Regions from separate parts of the Homo sapiens genome. Here region 1 is linked to region 2. Evidence: fine-mapped expression QTL. A gene starts in region 2. The other region holds a variant in brackets. All regions are shown on one strand. Distances are between the middles of the regions. Region 1 overlaps LAMP2 (lysosomal associated membrane protein 2). Region 2 holds the start of LAMP2 (lysosomal associated membrane protein 2).

Evidence for each region.
Region 1: its variant is fine-mapped to the expression of LAMP2 in whole blood (TOPMed, PIP above 0.99).

What each region holds. Positions count from the first base shown.
Region 1 is chrX:120,432,592-120,441,604 of GRCh38, reverse strand. The region is part of intron 8 of LAMP2 (lysosomal associated membrane protein 2); the gene reads left to right. Among named protein-coding and RNA genes, the nearest start is that of LAMP2, 32 kb to the left of the region's middle. The variant A/G (reference allele first, on the strand shown) is at 3,919.
Region 2 is chrX:120,464,290-120,474,866 of GRCh38, reverse strand. LAMP2 (lysosomal associated membrane protein 2) reads left to right here and starts at 5,571. Exons shown (of 9, transcript NM_002294.3): 1 at 5,571-5,761. The coding sequence starts at 5,698. RefSeq lists a silencer at 5,369-5,633.

The DNA.
Region 1 (9,013 bases), 32 kb after region 2:
GCAACTCTATATTTGGCTCATCATTTTGCTCAACCGAGATGTTTTTGTGATCTTAAAATCATTTGCAAAAAAAGTTCTTAAAGCTAAAACTGATAGAAGCTTTAAGTGAGCTTTATTTGAGGTATGGGTTTTAGTTTGTAGGGAAGATGGCACTTGGGAGCAGCAGCTTTGAGCATCTTGCATCTGCTTCCTGAGGCCGTCTTCTCACTGGAAACATTTTCATACCTGAATGAAAGCAGTTTGGTCTGATTTTGTTAAGACAAAAGATAAAGAGCGGTAGCAAAGCCTCAAATATCATGAACTATGTTTTTACCAGCCAAAACGATCTGGAGAGTTTTCAAAGCATGTGCCAGTGTGAATGACGCTTTTTGAAGATCACTCAGGGATAATGGTGGTATTTATTAGATTTTTAATGAAACCTTTTGAAGGGCTCATTATAATGTGTTCATACGAATATGAAAGACATATTTGGCATTACAAGATTAAAATTTGCATGAAGAAAAAAAGCACATAAAATTCCTTAATTGACTTGTCCTTTTAAGCCTATTACCTAAAATTGGGGGTTTGTGGATCACAACTCTGTTGAGCAGAGCTAGCTATTCCAGGCATCCACATCCTTTTCAACCATTAATTCTATGGTTTGGAAGGAAATGTGGAAGCTGTGTTTAAAAGCGAATATACTGTGAGCCATTCGACTACTTTTGCAGTGGTGTTGAATACCTAGTCTGACTTGGTTAGGCCACAATAAATTGGGCTCTCCACCCTACCATTCTTGCGATTAAAGACGTTAGTTACACTTTAAAAATATTTTCAAGAATTCATTTTCCCTTTTGTCTGTTTTGCTTATGTACTTCAATTATTTTGATCCTTTAGTAGCTTTATTTTTGGACTTTTTATCTGGCTCCCCTTCATTATTCCCCTAATTTTAAGTCCAGATTTGTGTTTACAGTTTAAAATCGTTTGCAGTATTAGTATCATCACTTCAAGACTGTTTATCTAGTCACCTGTAATAGAGATGAGCTGTGCTCTTTCTCTTACTTTGAAACTTTGGTTTTTATGTACATAGAATTAAAAATATCACCCAAAGAGATATACAGCATTTAATACTGATATTGAATGTATAATCTATTTGTGGAACTAGGTTCTTGGCTGTGGGTACCTATAAATACAACACATAGGTAATATTTGACTGTATGGGGAAAGAAATAGAATTGCAATAAGGCAGAAGAGTGTTGATTGGATTTTACTGGATCAGACCACTTTCTAGAAGTAGAAAAAAATAGCCCCCTTAGGCTGCCAACCCTGACCAGATAAGAAATGCAGTAAGCACGCTCAAATTAGTAAGAGGTCCCAGTTTTCTTGACTTTGCAGCCACTAAAATTGTATGTACTAAGTCACGATCTGCAAACTTTAAAGTTCCAAACAGTGAGTGTTTTAGGCTTTGGTGCCATATGGTCTCTGTCACAACTATTTGACCCTGCTATTGTAGCACGAAAACAGCAACACATAAACAGATGACTGTGGCTGGGTTCCAATAAAACCTTATTTATGGACACTGGAATTTGAATTTTATATGCTCTCATGTGTCACAAAATATTTTTTTCAACCATTTAAAAATGTAAAGGCCATTTTTAGCTCTTGGACCAGATCTGGCCCATGGGCTACAGCTTGCTGACCCCTGACCCTAAAGACAGAGCCAGCCTGGCTATTCTCATCACATGATACCTTCCTGATCCTGTTTCCACTTTCCCAAAAGACATTCACTCTACCACTGAGAGGCTAATCTGGCTATGTAAAAGTGGGCTAGATTAGCTCCCTTTATTTCTGATAAAGTAATATGCCTATTTTGGAAAGGACTTGGAATATAAACAAACATATATGTGTGTATGTATATGTATATGCACACATATATATCACATATAAAATATATATCATATATATAATGTGTGCATTATATATCATATATAATGTGCATATATTATATATATGCACACATATACAATGTGCATATAATATATGCACATTACAATATGAGCTGTGTTTATAGATGTAAATGAATATACATGTATTCATATATATGAATATCTGCATATATACACATAAACAAATGAAAGGACAAAGAAAGTCTTAGAATTTTAATTCTAGAACAGTTCTCCATTTTCTATAGCTTTATCATAAAAATATACCTGTCTTAGTTACTTGAAGTTGATCTTGTAAGAACATTTCTGACTTTTAAATCAACATCTTTGACTTCGAGACATTCTTTTGTGATTATACTCATTATTTATTACACACTTTTTCTCACCTACAGCCCAAGAGTGTTCGCTGGATGATGACACCATTCTAATCCCAATTATAGTTGGTGCTGGTCTTTCAGGCTTGATTATCGTTATAGTGATTGCTTACGTAATTGGCAGAAGAAAAAGTTATGCTGGATATCAGACTCTGTAACACTAATCAATACGTGATCTCTGTTACAAAAGAAAAAAGCAAGTACAAGTTCCAACATGCAATACTGGTCAACTTAAGGTATATTTAGTTGCAGTCCAGCTCTTTAGAATGGGTGGTATGGGGGATTTCAAACTTAAACAAAAAACTATCAACTACAAATTAGTTGCCTGACTTTGGTTTTTCCAACCAAGGAATTTAAAACTGTTATTTTTACAGCAAAAGATGTGCAAAATCACTGGATTATAAGTTCTATTTTACTGTCTTGAATTAGTATTTCAGTGTTTTCATTTTAGACATTCAGACTAAAAATACACCGTTTAGAAAAAACAATTTTTGAAAAAGAGATTTTTTTTCCCTGCAGGTAGTTGAGTTGGAACAACATGTTCTACCGTGGATTTGTACTTGCTCCTTTTGCTCTTTTTGTGTGTGTGTGTGTGTGTGTGTGTGTGTGTGTGTGTGTGATTTTTGTTTGCAGGTTAACTTAGCTACTTTGGCATTGCTGCATATTTGACCTTTGAGAGATATAATAGTAGATTTGAACAGGGGCTGGTATTATTATGTTCTTAGCAATAAATGCTTTTCTAATGCCTTTTGAATACATTTGTATTTATGTGGCTGTAATGACAAAAGATACAAAAGCTTTTTAAAATTTAGAGTAGGTATTAATCTTATTGTTTAATCTTTTTTTTAAAAAAACTGGATATTTCAATCTTTTAAATTGCAATATATAAGACTATTCCAACTGGGCATTTCAATCCATTTTTTAGGTGCTTTAGAGATAATTGCTTGCCAGTGCCAATTGAGGGCATTAGTACTTTGTGCTCATAAATTGGCCTCTGTATGCAGTACTAAAATTAATGCAGATTTCTCTTTAGCCTTCCAACATTTCTTGTTGATAGTGATGTATTTTATTATTTTCTTTTTCTTAAGAAATGCCAGTGTGTCCTAGAACCTAGATAACGAAGTGCACTTACACTTATAAAATAACTTGCATCTAGGCTGGGCGTGGCGGCTCACGCCTGTAATCCCAGCACTTTGGGAGGCCGAAGTGGGTGGATCACTTGAGGCCAGGAGTTTGAGACCAGCCTGGCCAACATGGTGAAACCCCATCTCTATCAGAAATACAAAAAATTAGCTGGGCGTGGTGGTGGGCGCCTGTAATCCCAGTTACTCGGGAGGCTGAGGCAGGAGAATCACTTGAACCCGGGAGGCAGAGGTTGCGGTGAGCCAAGAGCGCACCATTGCACTCCAGCCTGGGCGACAAAAACGAAACTCCATCTCAAAACAAAACAAAACAAAACAAACAAACAAACAAAACTTGCATCTAACCAAAAAGTCTTGGTTTTATCTTAATCCATTAAAAAGTTGTTCTTTGTTTCCAGCTTGCATTGATTGCTACAACATCACTAATTTGGCTTTCACATTTAAATGGTTCTGTGCTAATCAAAACTTTCGTTGTTATTATTC[A/G]TTATGGTAGAATCATTTTTAATTCACGTGCTTTGTGTTCAGTTTTGTGGTCTGAGAGATGTACCAATTGTCAAATTACCGTGTACCACCTAATGTTTATAGGAGAAAGCAAAATACATCAGCTTGGTAGTTAACACATCAAATATTTCTTGCTGCTTCTAGGAGAACTTTTTTGGTGTGTGTTGGAATGGCTGAGCAAATATTAAAATTGTTAATATGCAGCCATATATGGAAGGTTCCTGTGGGGTTGTTTTTTCGTGTTTTTTTTTTTTTTGTGGTGGGATTATGTGCCTCCCATTCACTAGAAAATGAGAAAATTGTCTGGGTTCCAAAATATTGACATTGAATGGATCAATACACACACACAGACATATATATATATATGCACACATATATAGGCAGTTGCATGCTAGCATGGGTATTTTTATAACAATATAACTGAGTTATATTGGAATTATAAATATTTTCCGTCACTTAAATTTGTTCTTTGTTTAGCCTGAAAACCTTTATGGCTCAAGATCAGATTCCTGACTAACCCCTCTCTTAGAGCTACAGCGAGCTGCATTACCAGCTTAAAACACTTCTTAGGGATTAAATATAGATGTAATTTTTCAAAATCGTTTTTAATTTAAACTGTGTTTTAGTGTAAAATTGTTAACCTTGTAAGATGGATAATGTGTATAAGAATGTAGGCCTTAACTATTTCACATGAGTCAAAACAAAGCAGCTTTAAAAAAATAATTGGAAGCACAAGTGCATGGCACTGACTGAATGCTGTTAATATTTCTAAAAGTTTCTACATTCAGATTATATGCCTGATTCATAGTAAAATACCTCTAATAAACACTGTTTTATAGAAAACCTGACTTCAGTGAATATTTTTGTATTTTACATGGGCCAGTTTATATACTGCTATTTACACTATTATTTCCTATAGCTACATGTTCTTTGTACCTTTTGTAGTTTTATTTGTATTACTAGATTCATACCTTGATGGTAACGCTCTATCTGGTTTTGGGTGTTTTTCATGTTTTAGCATTTGTATAAAGAAACTGGTCCATGTAAATACTTTCCATGTTTTTTCTTCAAATGTTTAAACCACTAGTTGATGTATGGTATCTTTAGATATTTGCCTGTCTGTTTGCTCAAAATTGCTTCTAAAACAATAAAGATTCTTTTATTTCTTAAGGCAATTTGCTTACCTTTTTTCCCGTTGGTTAAAGTCAAGATTTTGTATACTACATAATGGCAATTTCTTTCAAATGGAAAAACTTTAGAAATGTTTAGAAGTAGAACTGAATTATTTGCAAAATGTTCTGATGTTCTGTCTGTATATTACCATCTGGAAGAATAGTCCCATACATAGGCCTCGATTGATGCTAGGCAGGCTACAGAATAAGATCAACCTGGGAAGCGTTTTATAAAAATAGATTCCAGGCTGCATCCTTAGAGGATTTAACGTAGTAGGTCTAATGAGGAGACAGAGAGAGAGAGAGACAGAGAGAGAGAGAGAGAGTGTGTGTGTGTGTGTGTGTGTGTGTGTGTGTGTGTGTGTGTAAGCTCCCCTGCTGAACCTGATGCATAGTCAGTTAGGGAACCAGTGATCTAGAATATTTATTTCATAATAAAAGCTGCGGAGTATCTCTTTGTACACTTTTCTCAATTCCTAAGTTGAGGTTGATATTCAATATCTCTACATAGTAGCTTTACATTGCAGCCATACATATTGAGCTATTGATCTGAACCAACGTAGGATTGTGTGCAGTCTCTCTCTTACTTAGATCACTCTAAAATACTTGAGCCTTCCAGTTTCCATATACGGATAGTTACCTAGTCACCTTACTATATCACATAAGAAAACTTAGCAATGTAGCTGGTAACTTTTCTCTGAATTACCCAGTTAAGCCATGTGAATGCCAGTTAGTCATCACGGCTGCAAACTCTGCAGTTAACTACCATTGTCTTTGGCCAAGTTGTTTAACTTCTAGTGTCTCAATTTCTTCATCCAGTGGGTGGGGGCTTTAAAATCCTGCTACTCATTTCTTTGAGTGATAATTTGCATTTCAGAGGAATGCATCATAGTATTTCATACATCTTAGTATTTTAGAAGGAATCTGATAAGCTACTTGTTACGTATCAAGAACATACTATAAGTTCAGTGTAAAATGTACCACTTAAGTTTCCTGCAGTTTTTCAGGAGGAATTCTTATAAGACTTGGACATTTTTAAGATGATAGTATTTCATCTGTTTATTTAGGTAGATAATGTTAAATTGTCTTGGGCTCATCTTCCACCCATCTCCTTTTCTTTTACCCTGGTAGCTAACTTTCTGCGTTAATAATCACCATTTCTTGTATTTGAAACTGGTATAGATATTCATGAATGATATTGAGTAGCTTCACGAATCTTTTCAGATGCATGTGATTTACTTAACACAGTTTGATTATAGATATAAAATGTATATAACAAAATATCACCTAAGAATGTGCTTCTTAATGTGGATCCTTCCAAAAAGAAGTTTTGACTCGTTTGTTTGTTTGTTTTGTTTTGTTTGAGATGGAGTCTCGCTCTGTTGCCCAGGCTTGGGTGTGTATAGTGGTGTGATCTCAGCTCACTGCAACCTCCGCCTCCCAGGTTCAAGCAATTCTTATGCCTCAGCCTCCCAAGTAGCTGGGATTACAGACGAGTGCCACCACACCTGGCTACCTTTTTATTTTTTTAGTAGAGATGGGGTTTTGCCATGTTGGCCAGGCTGGTCTCGAATTCCTGACCTCAAGTGATCTGCCTACCTCGACCTCCTGAACTGCTGTTATTATAGGCATGAAACGCTGTGCCTGGCCTCAACTGGTTTTTAAGAGAAGTTTTATTAGTTTTTGTTGTAAATGTATACCTCAGCTTTCCAGTTCTTGTGTTGAAAATTGTGTTTGAAAAATGTCTGAACTGGCAGAAAATTGAAGATTAACAGCATTTTTAATCTACATGAAACTTCTTACTGAAATTTTAGTGGCCATGGAACTTTTTAATCTTTAAAAATCTTTATTGCTTCTGTGGCTATTAAATTCTTCTGCAAATACACTTCTCTTTTCCCCAGAAGCATTTTCAATACAGCGTTAAGTATACATTAGGCAAGTAGATCAGATCAAAATGACTTATAGGATGAGATTTTCTTTTCTTCAGAATGTGATCCCATTAAAGTTACTGTTTTACCAACATTTTTTCCATTAACTAAATAATTTTTAAAGGTTGAATTCATACAATCAATAGTTATTATAAATTAATATTTCACATACTAATTGAGAGCATTTTAAGTAAATGACAGTATCTAGAAAGATCTTTGTATTAGCGGAATTGCCTTTTTGAGCTACTCTGAGAATATTTGTCTTACATGAAAGCCTTATTGGCAGTATTTATGAAAGTCGTTTCAGTACTAGGTCAAATACCCAATTTGGGAAAGAGAGAACTATGAGTCTGTTGCCAGAATAAGAAATTAATCTACTAATGAATTTTTAAAAAACCAAGTTATATTAAACCCACGGCATAATACTTTATGGTACATGTCACCTAATAGTTTATGGGCTGGGTGGTAATTTGGGAAATTGTAGGGGAGGTGCTAACTGGGGATTCTTAACACCATCTATTCACAGGTCACATCTGGCAGCCTCAGCTCTCTGGATTCTTAACAGAACCAAGAAGCAAGTAAAACAAATAATTGAACTGGCAGCCCAAGTCAATGTCAGAAAAGTTTATAAACTCCAGGGTTGCATTTTGTTCCTAGTTATTGCCCCAGAGGCTAGTGGGGGCGGCGGGGAAAGCTTGGCACATTTCTTGAATGCAAGCACAATCAGAATTGCCATGCAGCCTATTTGTCCTATCTTTGATACAATTCTAATAAGCTTAGTTATCTGATTTATCAGTCCCTGGTAGACTGCAAGCTAGGCAGAGAACTAGGGCAACAAGACACAGGAAATGGGAAATAGAAATAGCAGTTAACTTCTTTCCTGCAAGTGTATCCATCTGTAGCATTCCTTCCTCCTCTCCAGTCTCAGAGTAGGTTTTCTTTTCCTGGTTAAACTGAGGCAAACAGTTATGTCATCAAGGCCCATTTATATCTCTTTTCCCATTACTAAGTGACCCCAGATTGTTATGTATTGAGTTCTTAATGTCTTACGCTTTTGGAATTCAATCTCTTAACTTGTAGGAGAACTTGTACCATTCAGCATCTTCTGTCAATTGCTAATGGCTGTTTCCCTCATCCTATTTAAGTTCTTCTAACCTTAAGCTATCCTTTCTTGTCCCTATGTCCCCCTTCTAATTACCTCCCTTTTGTCCTGCCTTAATCATTCTAAACTTCTCAAAATGAGTATTGTATTTGTTACCCTGCCCAAGTTCTTGATGTCCTAACCAATCACTTCCCATTCCCTCTTAAACCTGCAGCAATTTTACTCATATCTCCCACCCTTCATATTGCTAGAGGCAATGGACATGTTTCAAAGCTTTCTACTATTATTTGCTGTCTTTCCACCTTAATTGAAACGTTCCATCCTTAGCTTCTCTGGCGCCATTTTCTATCTGCCCTTTTACATCTTTTTCCTACTCCATTGTCTATCCCACAGGTATTGGTGTTCCCAAGGGTTTTTGTCTCTGATCCTCTTTTTATTCTACTTCCCCTTACTGAGAAATGTTCTTGCCCATGTTTTAACTACCACTTAGGTTCATATAGCCACTTGGTTAGGACATAGTGATTTTTTTTTTTTTTTTGAGATGGGTTCTCGATATGCTGCCCAGGCTGGTCTTGAACTCCTGGGCTCAAACAGTTCTCCCATCTCAGCTTCCCAAGTAGCTAGGACTACAGGCGTAAGCTACCATGCTCAACTAAGGACACAGATATCTTAAACTCACATATCTAAAACTGAGCATCTCTCTCTTCCACGTATCCTTTTTACCACCTGTTCCATATAACTACAAAAAACTGAAATGCATATATTCTTCCTCTTTTATAGAATGGCACCAGCATCTACATAATCAGTCAAGTGTGGAATTGGAAACCATTCTATTATCTCCTCCTCGTACACCCCCTACATCCGTTTGGTCAATT
Region 2 (10,577 bases):
GTCTTGCTCTGTCTCCCAGGCTGGAGTGCAATGGCACAATCTCGGCTCACTGCAACCTCTGCCTCCCGGGTTCAAGCAATTCTCCTGCCTCAGCCTCCTGAGTAGCTGGGATTACAGGCACCTGCCACCACGCCAGGCTAATTTTTGTATTTTTTTTTTTTTTTTAGTAGAGACAGGGTTTCGCCATGTTGGCCAGGCTGGTCTTGAACTCCTGACCTCAGGTGATCCACCCTCCTTGGCCTCCCAAAGTGCTAGGATTACAGGCATAAGCCACCATGCCCAGCCCTCCTTCATCTCTTAACCCCATTCCCCAGAGGACAGAGAGCCCCTGCTGAGAGTTTGAGATCTCATTACTCAGAATGTGGTCTCCAGACCAGCAGCATCAGATCACTAGGGAAGTTGCTAGAAATGCAGATTCTTGTGTCCTATCCCGGAGCTGTTGAACTTCACAGTGGGGCCTAGTAATCTGTGTTTTAATAAGCCCTCCAGTGGTTGTGATGCATAAACCATTTTGTTTTAGCAGATTGGATCAGATCTTTTGGCAGGGGAGGTTGAGAATACTACTGGCCAGGAGAACAAACAACTCAAAATGGCATGTTTCCATTTATCCAGAGAACTCTGGCTGAAGAGTTGGCAGCCCCTTGAGCCCACTGTGACCTCGCTGTGGGGTTGAGCGATGACCATACTGTCATCCAGACAGTAGATATTAAAGGTATTATCCAGAAAAAAGGGACATGCCAGAAGGAGAAAGGAAAAAGAGGGAGGGTAGGAGAAACTAAAAAAAGGATGAGTAGGGAAAGGAAAAATGGGGCAGATAAAAAGATAATGCAAATTTAAAAAGTAAAGATTTTTGGTGGCAAATAGATGACACCAATACCTCAGGGGCACTCATTTATTTATTTTTATTATTTATTATTATTATTTTTTGAGACAGGGTCCCACTTTGTCACCGAGGCTGGAGGGCAGTGGCGCGATCTTGGCTCACTGCAAACTTCGCCTCCCTGGTTCAAGCAATTTTTGAACCTCAGCCTCCCGAGTAGCTGGGTTTAAAGGCATGTGCCACCACACCCAGCTAATTTTTGTACTTTTTGCTAGAGATGGGGTTTCGCCATGTTGGCCAGGCTGGTCTTGAACTCCTGATCTCAAGTGATCCATCCCTCTTGGCCTCCCAAAGTGCTGGGATTACAGGCATGAGCCACCGTGCCCAGCCCATTTATTTAATAACTATTTATTATTCTTCCATTCTAAACTTCTGCACCTTTAAGTTCATTTCCTCTGCTCATCCCCACATTTCATTGTCTATCATTTACCAAATCTGATAGGGTCATCATTTCTTACACCATTCAGTATGTTGACATGTAGGGAAATGTTTGCCAATGATTTCCTGCTCTTTGGCCAAAAAGTCATGCACTCTCAAAGGTGCTGAAAAGAGTCTTAATCTACCTATGATGGTAGGGGACAGTGTGGGGGGACTGCTGAGGAGTTTGTGCACTGGGGTGGTATGAGGTATATTCAGGAGCGCACATAAAAGCACCCTAGATACAGCGGTACCAACAATCAAGTCAACCTTTGTGAAGCTTAGATCGGAGGGGATCTCACAGATTTCCTCAAACACTAACCCCAGTCTCACGTATACATCTGCATCTACCACCGAAAGCCAAGGAAAAGCTCCTTCAATCTGGGGCAGGGTAATGGGAGACTGTATAAGAAAAGGGATCTTTCTCACAGTGTTTTTTGGAGAAAACATTAAACATTTCTGAGTATGGAAGCTCAGTGCAAACAAAGACTTGAGAATTTTTAGCCTATTTATGCTGACAAAATACCCAGCATGTATCTACAACTTTCAAAACATTGTTGTGTCTCACGACGATGCCTGTCCCAGTCAAGGAGCCAGCATTTGTATTTGCCTGAGGAAAAGGTTGTGATGGGGGTGAGGGTGGATTTCGCTTGTAAGGCTGCTCATATTTCACTGTGTTTATTTTTTTAATTTGATGACACCTTCAAGAGATAAAGGGCGACAATTTATTACACCAGATATTTGACAAATTGGGACAGTATTTTATTTTATTTTAATTGTTAGAGACAGGGTCTCACTCATTTGCATAGGCTGGAGTGCAGTGGCGCCATCAAAGAGCACTGCAGCCTCAACCTCCTGGGCTCAAGCGACCCTCCCATCTCAGCCTCCCTGGTATCTGGGACTACAGGTGTGCACCACCATGGCTGGCTATCCTTATATATAAATATATACATATATTTTCAGAGACAGGGTCTTGCTCTGTCACCCAGGCTGGAGTGCAGTGGTGCAAACATGGCTCACTGCAGCCTCCACCTCCTGGACTTGAACAATCCTCTTGCCTCAGCCCCCAAGTAGCTGGGACTACAGGTGCACGCCACCACCCCCAGCTAATTTTTAATTTTTTGTAGAGATGGGGTTTCACCATGTTGGTCAGACTGGTCTCAAACTCCTGAGCTCAGGCAATCTGCCTGCTTTGGCTTCCCAAAGTGTTGGGATTACAGGTTTGAGCCACTGCACCTGGCCAATTTTAAATAAATGAGCATTTACTCACATAGAATCCTTGAATTATAAACCTGATGCCAACTTAGAGATCATCTGAGGCCCACCAATATTGTTTTGGGGAGTTTTGAGAAAAACACCATGCCCAGGCCTGACTTCAGATAAACTGAATCAGAATCTCAAGGGATGGGACCAAGGGGAATTTTCCACTTTTAAAGCTCCACAAGTGATTCCAACATGCAGCCAGGATCAAGAAACAGCTCTAGTCTCATTATTTCATTTTACCAATAAAGATATAGAAGTTCAAACAGATGAAGTGACCTGCCTAAGATCACACTGCCAGTAAGTGGTGTCTCACAACCAACTCCTCTGACTGCTAACCCAATGTTCTTTCCACTATGTTCTTTTTTTGTTTCTTCTTATAGAAAGAGCTTAGGGTTTTACTGAACATTAAAGTTATGCGATTTACAATTGAAAGAGAAGAGCTAGAGTCCAGGAAGTATTGGTGGGGCATCTTCAGAGGGCTCAACTCAGTTGTGGGTTCTCTGAAGACTACTATGCCCAGGACATAGCTCCTGCCAAGTCTCATTGATGGCAGTCAAAAGACATTTTGCTAAAGGCAATGACTAACACTGTATGCAGTGTTCATTAGTCTTGTGTTGGGTCACTTGTTCACAAATTAGTTTCACCTATGGTAGTAAACATTCATTGACAAATGTTCTCACTTTCAGGAATTAATTACATTAAAGCAAACAATAGTGGGGCAGATCGGTGCTTCTTAATATTTGAATTAGGGTAGGGGTTAGGGCAAGGAGTCACAGGTCCCATTGGAGAACTAGTGAAAACTACAAACTTCCCCACAAAAATACACATACATAAATGTTGCATGTAATTTCTGAGGATTCACCGACACCTCTCCCATCCTGTCTAAACTCATACATAAACTCCAGATTAAAATCTCCTGGACTAGATGATTTTGAAGCTCTCTTTCAGTGTTTTTCTCAAAGTGTGGTCCATGGACCACAGAATCAGAATCACTTGGGGTGTTTGTTAAAGAAGTGATTAATAAGACTGCCACAGACCTACTGTTTCAGAATCTCTGGGGAATGAGGTACAGGAATCTGTATGTTAAAAAAAAAAAACCCAAAACCAGATGGTTCTTTTGGAAACTAACACTTGAGAATCAGTGCTTTATTCCAACTCAAGATTTTTAAATGCTTTCATCTGTTGAATATTTTAGGTTTTGTCTGTTCATCTATCAAGTATAGCAAACAGTATGCTTAGTATGAACTCATTACAGAATATTTGTGTGTATGTACATAGGAAAAATATCTGGAAGTATAGATGTGGGTGTGTGTATATATGTGTGTAAATATATATAATAATGTTAATAGTAGGAATACAGATGATCTCTATTTTTCCGCTTTATCCTTCTGTTTTATTTCTCTCATTTTTTTCTTCCTGTGTTTAAAAAAGATGCTTCTTGTTTCTGAGCTCAATTCCCCCACCTGAGAACAGGGTGCTGTAACTAGGTGAATTTCAAGATCATGTCTTGTTCCGATGGTCCGTGACTCCATACTACCCCCTAGGTTCCCTCGTCCATCTCACAGCATGAACTGCATAGGTAACAACAGTGTTTGGAGAATAAGCATGTATTATTTTTGTATGTATTACGTTTGAGATGCCTAGCAACCGTTTTTGTGCCCGCAAAATTTTTCTCTTCTTTGTCAAGGAGCCAAAACGGAAATAGTCTACTATCTACGGCCCTCAAAAGTTCCTCCTCTCTCCTTAGCCTTAGAAAATACCGTCCGCCATAGGCATGGGCAAAGACCTCATGGCTAAAACACCAAAAGCAATCGCAACAAAAGTCAAAATTGACAAATGGGATCTAATTAAAAGAACTTCTGCACAGCAAAAGAAATTAGCATTAGCGTGAACAGGCAACCTGCAGAATGGGAGAAAATTTTTGCAATCTACCCATCTGACAAAGGTCTAATATCCAGAATCTACAAGGACCTTAAACAAATTTACAAGAAAAAAACAACCCCATCAAAAAGTGGGCAAAGGATATGACCAGACACTTCTCAAAAAAAGACATTTATGCAGCAACAAACATGAAAAAAAGCTCATTATCACTGATCATTAGAGAAAGGCAAATCAAAACCACAATGAGATACCATCTCACGCCAGTCAGAATGGTGATTATTAAAAAATCAGGAAACAATAGATGCTGGCGAGGCTGAGGAAAAATAGGAATGCTTTTACACTGTTGGTGGGAGTGTAAATTAGTTCAACTATTGTGGCAGACAGTGTGGCGATTCCTCAAAAATCTAGAACCAGAAATACCATTTGACGCATGCACACGTATGTTTATTGCAGCACTATTTACAATAGCAAAGACTTGGAACCAACCCAAATGCCCATCAATGATAGACTAGATAAAGAAAACGTGGCACATATATGCCATGGAATACTATGCAGCCATAAAAAAATGAGATCATGTCCTTTGCAGGGACATGGATGAAGCTGGAAGCCATCATCCTTAGCAAACTAACACAGGAACAGAAAACAAAACACTGCATGTTCTCACTCATAAGTGGGAGTTGAACAATGAGAACACATGGACACAGGGAGGGGAACAACACACACGGGGGCCTGTCAAGGGGTGGGGGCCAAGGGGAGGGAGAGCATTAGGAGAAATACCTAATGCATGTGGGGCTTAAAACCTAGATGACGGGTTGATAGGTGCAGTAAACCACCATGGCACATGTATACCTATGTAACAAAGCTGCACATTCTGCACATGTATCCCAGAACTTAAAGTAAAATTAAAAAAAAAAAAAAAAAAGAAAGAAAAAGAAAAAGAAAATGCCGTCCGCGCATATCTCTCAGGAGCATAGGAAGGGCTGTGAACCAAAAAGCCAGGGCGTGGTCGCCCCGCCCACCGGCCGCTACATCACCACCCCTCTCGCCGCTTTCAAGCGCGGAGATTGGCTGTAAGCAAGAAAGAGCCCCGCCCCTAGTCTTATGACTCGCACTGAAGCGCCGATTCCTGGCTTTTGCAAGGCTGTGGTCGGTGGTCATCAGTGCTCTTGACCCAGGTCCAGCGAGCCTTTTCCCTGGTGTTGCAGCTGTTGTTGTACCGCCGCCGTCGCCGCCGTCGCCGCCTGCTCTGCGGGGTCATGGTGTGCTTCCGCCTCTTCCCGGTTCCGGGCTCAGGGCTCGTTCTGGTCTGCCTAGTCCTGGGTGAGTTGTCGGGCCCTCCCGATTAGTCTGTCCGCCTGGGCCCGGGGCACCAGTTCAAAGCTACAACCTGAAAGACTGGTCCGAGGGGGAGGGGGTTGAGAGGCTCAGCAGCTAACACTGGGCGGCGGCGGTTGGCCCGGGGAGGCAAGCGGTGACCTAGAGAAGGCCTGACCGACGGATGGCGGGGAAGAAGGGCCCAGGAGAGTAAGAAGGGGCCGGTAACGGGGGGTGGACGCCGAGGGAGTAGGCTGGGAGGAGTGAAGCGTGGAGAGGGTCAGCGTGGAAAGAGTAACTTGGGGAAAACACTGAGGAGTGAGCGTAGGAGGGTGGTACATGCAGATTTTGGGCGCCAGAGACAATTAGGAGAGTCTTGGTTTGCTGAGATCAGGGAAGAGTTTTGAAGATGGTGGAAAAACTATGGGGTGAGATAGGAAATTAAGAGAGAAGACCATGCCTGCCTGGAGTAGCTTGGGAGAAGTGTGTGGGTGGGGGACAGATGGGACAGATAGGACAGTAGAGCCTGAGGGGCAGGGGCAGTGACAGGGTTGGGCATTTTGAAGGTTGGAATTTGAGACTGTGAAGAAAGGATGATTCAAGAGATTAGGAGTGATGCTGGGTTTGAGTTTGGTAGTCATAGTTTTAAGGGCGAAGGAACCTAAGGTAGCTGGGGCAATTTCCAGGAAAGAAAACTTGGACCCAACCTCTGGAGACTAAGGGGTTCAGGGGGAACTTTGATGGGGAGTGCACATCTGACTTGGAGGTATTGAGGATGTCGATTTTCTCCCAGTTTTGCTACTTCCTCCCAGCCAGACGCTGACAAAAAAATCCCCAGACGTTTCAGTTAGGAGGGCCTCCCAGATGTGAGGTTTTGGGGGTGGAGTATTTGAGTTTGGTAGACTACCTCTTTGCCTTCAGAGTTTCTTCTTTTCTTTCTTCCCCATCACACAGCTAGCCTATTACCTCATATTTTGGGGGTGCAGGGAGCAGGTAGACAAACTTGCTAAGGATTGGGTTGTTACCAGGGCCTAAGAATGGCTGGATGGGGCCGGGCGTGGTGGCTCATGCCTGTAATCCCAGCACTTTGGGAGGCCGAGGTGGGTGTATCACCTGAGGTCAGGAATTCAAGACCAGCCTGGCCAACATGGTGAAACCCCGTCTCTACTAAAAATACAAAAATTAGCCGGGCGTCGTGGCACATGCCTGTAATCCCAGCTGCTTGGGCGGCTGAGGCAGGAGAATCGCTTGAACCCAGAAGGCGGAGGTTGCAGTGAGCCAAGATTGCGCCATTGCACTCCAGCCTGGGCGACAAGAGTGAAACTCTGTCTCAAAAAATAAAAATAAATAAATCAATAAATAAATGGCTGGGTGAATGTTCGCTGATTGTGTTGTGCCCTAATAGGCAGTGGGTCGCTAACAACTTTAATGCCTAAAAGTGAACTTTGACTAAAGTGTCTCTTCCTGACTTTGATTCATGCTGTGCTTGTTGCTACCCACCTGCTCTTGCTATTTGTGACTTAATAAAATAACATAAAGAACAGACCCAGATGGGAGTGGGGAAGAAATAGACATATTAGGGGTCTGAGAAAGCAGTGAGAGGTATACATTTTGTAATTCACATTTCAGTAGAATGAAATCAACACCCTGGAATAGTGATTCTCAACCAGGGGACATTTGGCAACATCTGGAGACATTTTTGGTTGTAACAACTGGGGGATTGCTTTTAGCATCTAGTGGGTAGAGGCCAAGGATGCTGCTAAACATCCTAACTAAGCACAGGGCAGCCCCTGACAACAAAGAATCATCTCCCTGAAAATGTCAATGGTGCCAACATTGATAAATCCTGCTCGAAAACCATAGTATTGGAAGGGTTCTTGATTATCTAATTCAGTGACTCTCGAGGACCTTTTCATGCGTCTGTGAAATCAAAACTTCGGAATAAGGTTAAGAAGGTATTTGTCCTTTTCTGCTGGGCACAGTGGCTCACGCCTGTAATCCCAGCACTTTGGGAGGCTGAGGCGGGCGGATCACCTGAGATCAGGAGTTCAAGACCAGCCTGACCAACATGGTGAAACCCAGTCTCTACTAAAAATAGAAAAATTAGCCGGTGTCGTGGCACATGCCTGTAATCCCAGCTACTTGGGAGGCCGAGGCAGGAGAATCGCTTGAACCCAGGAGGCGGAGGTTGCGGTGAGCCAAGATTGCGCCACTGCATTCCAGCCTGGGCAACATGAGCGAAACTCTGTCTCAAAAAAAAAAAAAAAAAAAGAAGTTATTTGTCCTTTGTCCTTTTCACTCTCATCCTCTCACCAGTGTACAGCAGAGTTTTCCAGTGGCTACGTAACATGTGATGACCTCACCACTCTGATGTTCTTATATTTTATTCATTTCTCAGTTTTAATTTCTAATACTGTAAATACCAATACATATGACTCACATAAACCTCTGTGAAGTCCTCAGTGGATAAGAAAGTAAAGGGGTCCTGACACCAAAACTTTGGGAATCCCTGATGTAGTCCAACTGTTCACAGCGCGCAGGAAACTCTTCTGTAGCACTTCTGAAAGGCGGCCTTGAGGCAGGCTTTGCTTGAATACTTAATTGGAAGCCTTAACTGTACCTTGGAGCACTTACTGAGGGCCAACTGACCCTAAGAAAGGATTGTTTACAATGGAAAGTACCTTATCAGTGACTAGAACACATCTGACCAAGGCATCTGTTAATCAGTAGTTCCCTGCCAATTGAATCTGTGCACAAATACAACACTGTTATTGTTTTGGGAAAGTGAAAAAAATAATAGTTGTCCTACTTGTTGGCTTTCATGTCATTAAATTTTTTTTTGTTTTTTAATGAAAGCTTTTTTGTTTTGTTTTTACAAAAGCAATGCTTACTCACTGCAGAAAATAAACATGCAAAAAGAAGCACATAAAAGAACCCATCAGCTCATCTGCTAGTTTGCCATTTATTGATCAGGACTAACTAGATTCTTCCTCTTGGAAAATTTCCAAGATTGATTCCCTCCGCCTCCAAGTTCAGAGCAGGATTTGGAAAAGTAAATATTAATAATGTACCTAGATCTGATTTTTAAGAGGTTCCAGGATGAAATAGAAACCATTTTTCTATACAGCTGCATTTTCTGATGGCTCTTGGTTCAGTGTGGAGCCCAAAGTCCTCCCATATAGCTTTTTCTGTCAAGAATTTAGCAGTTGCTTGGTGGGTTTTGCACAAGTTACTTTTCTATATCAAAATGGATACCAATAATAGGTTTTTGAAAACTTAATAAATATTTGTAAAGTACCTAATATGTAGCTAAATCAATAAATATTTGTAAAGTACCTACTATGTAGCTAGAACTGTGCCTGGGTACTGTACGGAGTGCCAATGAAGGAGGACCTGTCCTAAATTTATAGTCTTATTAGCATTAGTGCTCTAGCTGTGCCAGTTTGACTTTGTAACTTTATAACTCTATCCCAGCTTCACCCATAACCTTTTAAAAACAGCAGCTTTAGAATAAGTACAGAAAAGGATTCTTAGAGGCTATATATTGGTCTTTTTCATAGAGATTAAATTATGCTGGTGTTTATTTGGATGAATTGTAACTGACCAGACAACTTTCCGAAGAGAAGCTATATGATTTAGAGGTGTTATAAAGTGGATAGTGGGTGAAAATCCTTTCTTTATATAATTGCCTAATTATGGTCCTTTTGTGATATCATAGATTTCAGGATTCTTCTGTGGTTATTGATTCTTATAACTAGCTTGACTTCTGTTTTTTGGTTTGTTTGTTTGTTTTTTTAGGGTTCAGAATTTTTTTTTTTTAGGTTTGAGGCTTTTCTGGGTGGGAAAAACCTCACAGAAATATTCTTAGTGTATGTTACTGGTAGGAGCCTCTCCCTTCCACACGTTTACTGAATGCCTATTGTGTCCCAGCCACTATATTAGGTGAAAGGGACAGAGGAATGGATAAGACAGATGAGGTTCCTGCTCTCATGGAGCTTACATTTTAATGGGAGAAGAAAGCTCAACAGATAAATAATATAATGTCAGATAGTGATAAACACTATGAAGAGGCCGGGCATGGTGGCTCACGCCTGTAATCCCAGCACTTTGGGAGGTCAAGGTGGGCAAATCACCTGAGGTCAGGAGTTCGAGACCAGCCTAGCCAACATGGTGAAACCCCATCTCTACTAAAAATACAAGGGCATGGTGGCCAGCACCTGTAGTCCCAGCTACTCGGGAGGCTGAGGCAGGAGAATTGCTTGAATCCAGGAGGTGGAAGTTGCAGTGAGCCGAGATCATGCCACTGTCCTCCAGCCTGGGGGACAAGAGCAAAACTCTGTCTCAAAACAAAACAAAACAAAAACACTATGAAGAAAATTACACAGGTAATGAGAAAGGAGAATGAGTAGATGATAGGAATGGGTGATGGTGGATGATCCTTCTTTATATTATGTGGTCAGAGGGCCTTCCGTTATCGGGTGACATTTGGGCAGAGACCTGGGTGTTGGCAGGAGGCCAGCCATGTGACCATCTGGGGAAATAGGAATAAATCTTATCATTTGCAAAATCTTAGGTTACTAGCCTATTTTCCACGCTTTTTTGTTTCCCCCTAGTTTTAGTCAAGTCTCTCCTATGGTAGCAGTCTCTAAGAGCAGAGACGATCTTATGTACTGTTACTTCCCATTGCCTACCTAGCATAGGGTCTGGTACATGGTTAACCCGTAGTGAATTTTTGTTGAAGATATTCATTGGTGGGCACTAGGGATATGGTGGTAAACTAGACTCATTTAGTCTCCTTTTTCTTCCATGAATTTTAAATGAT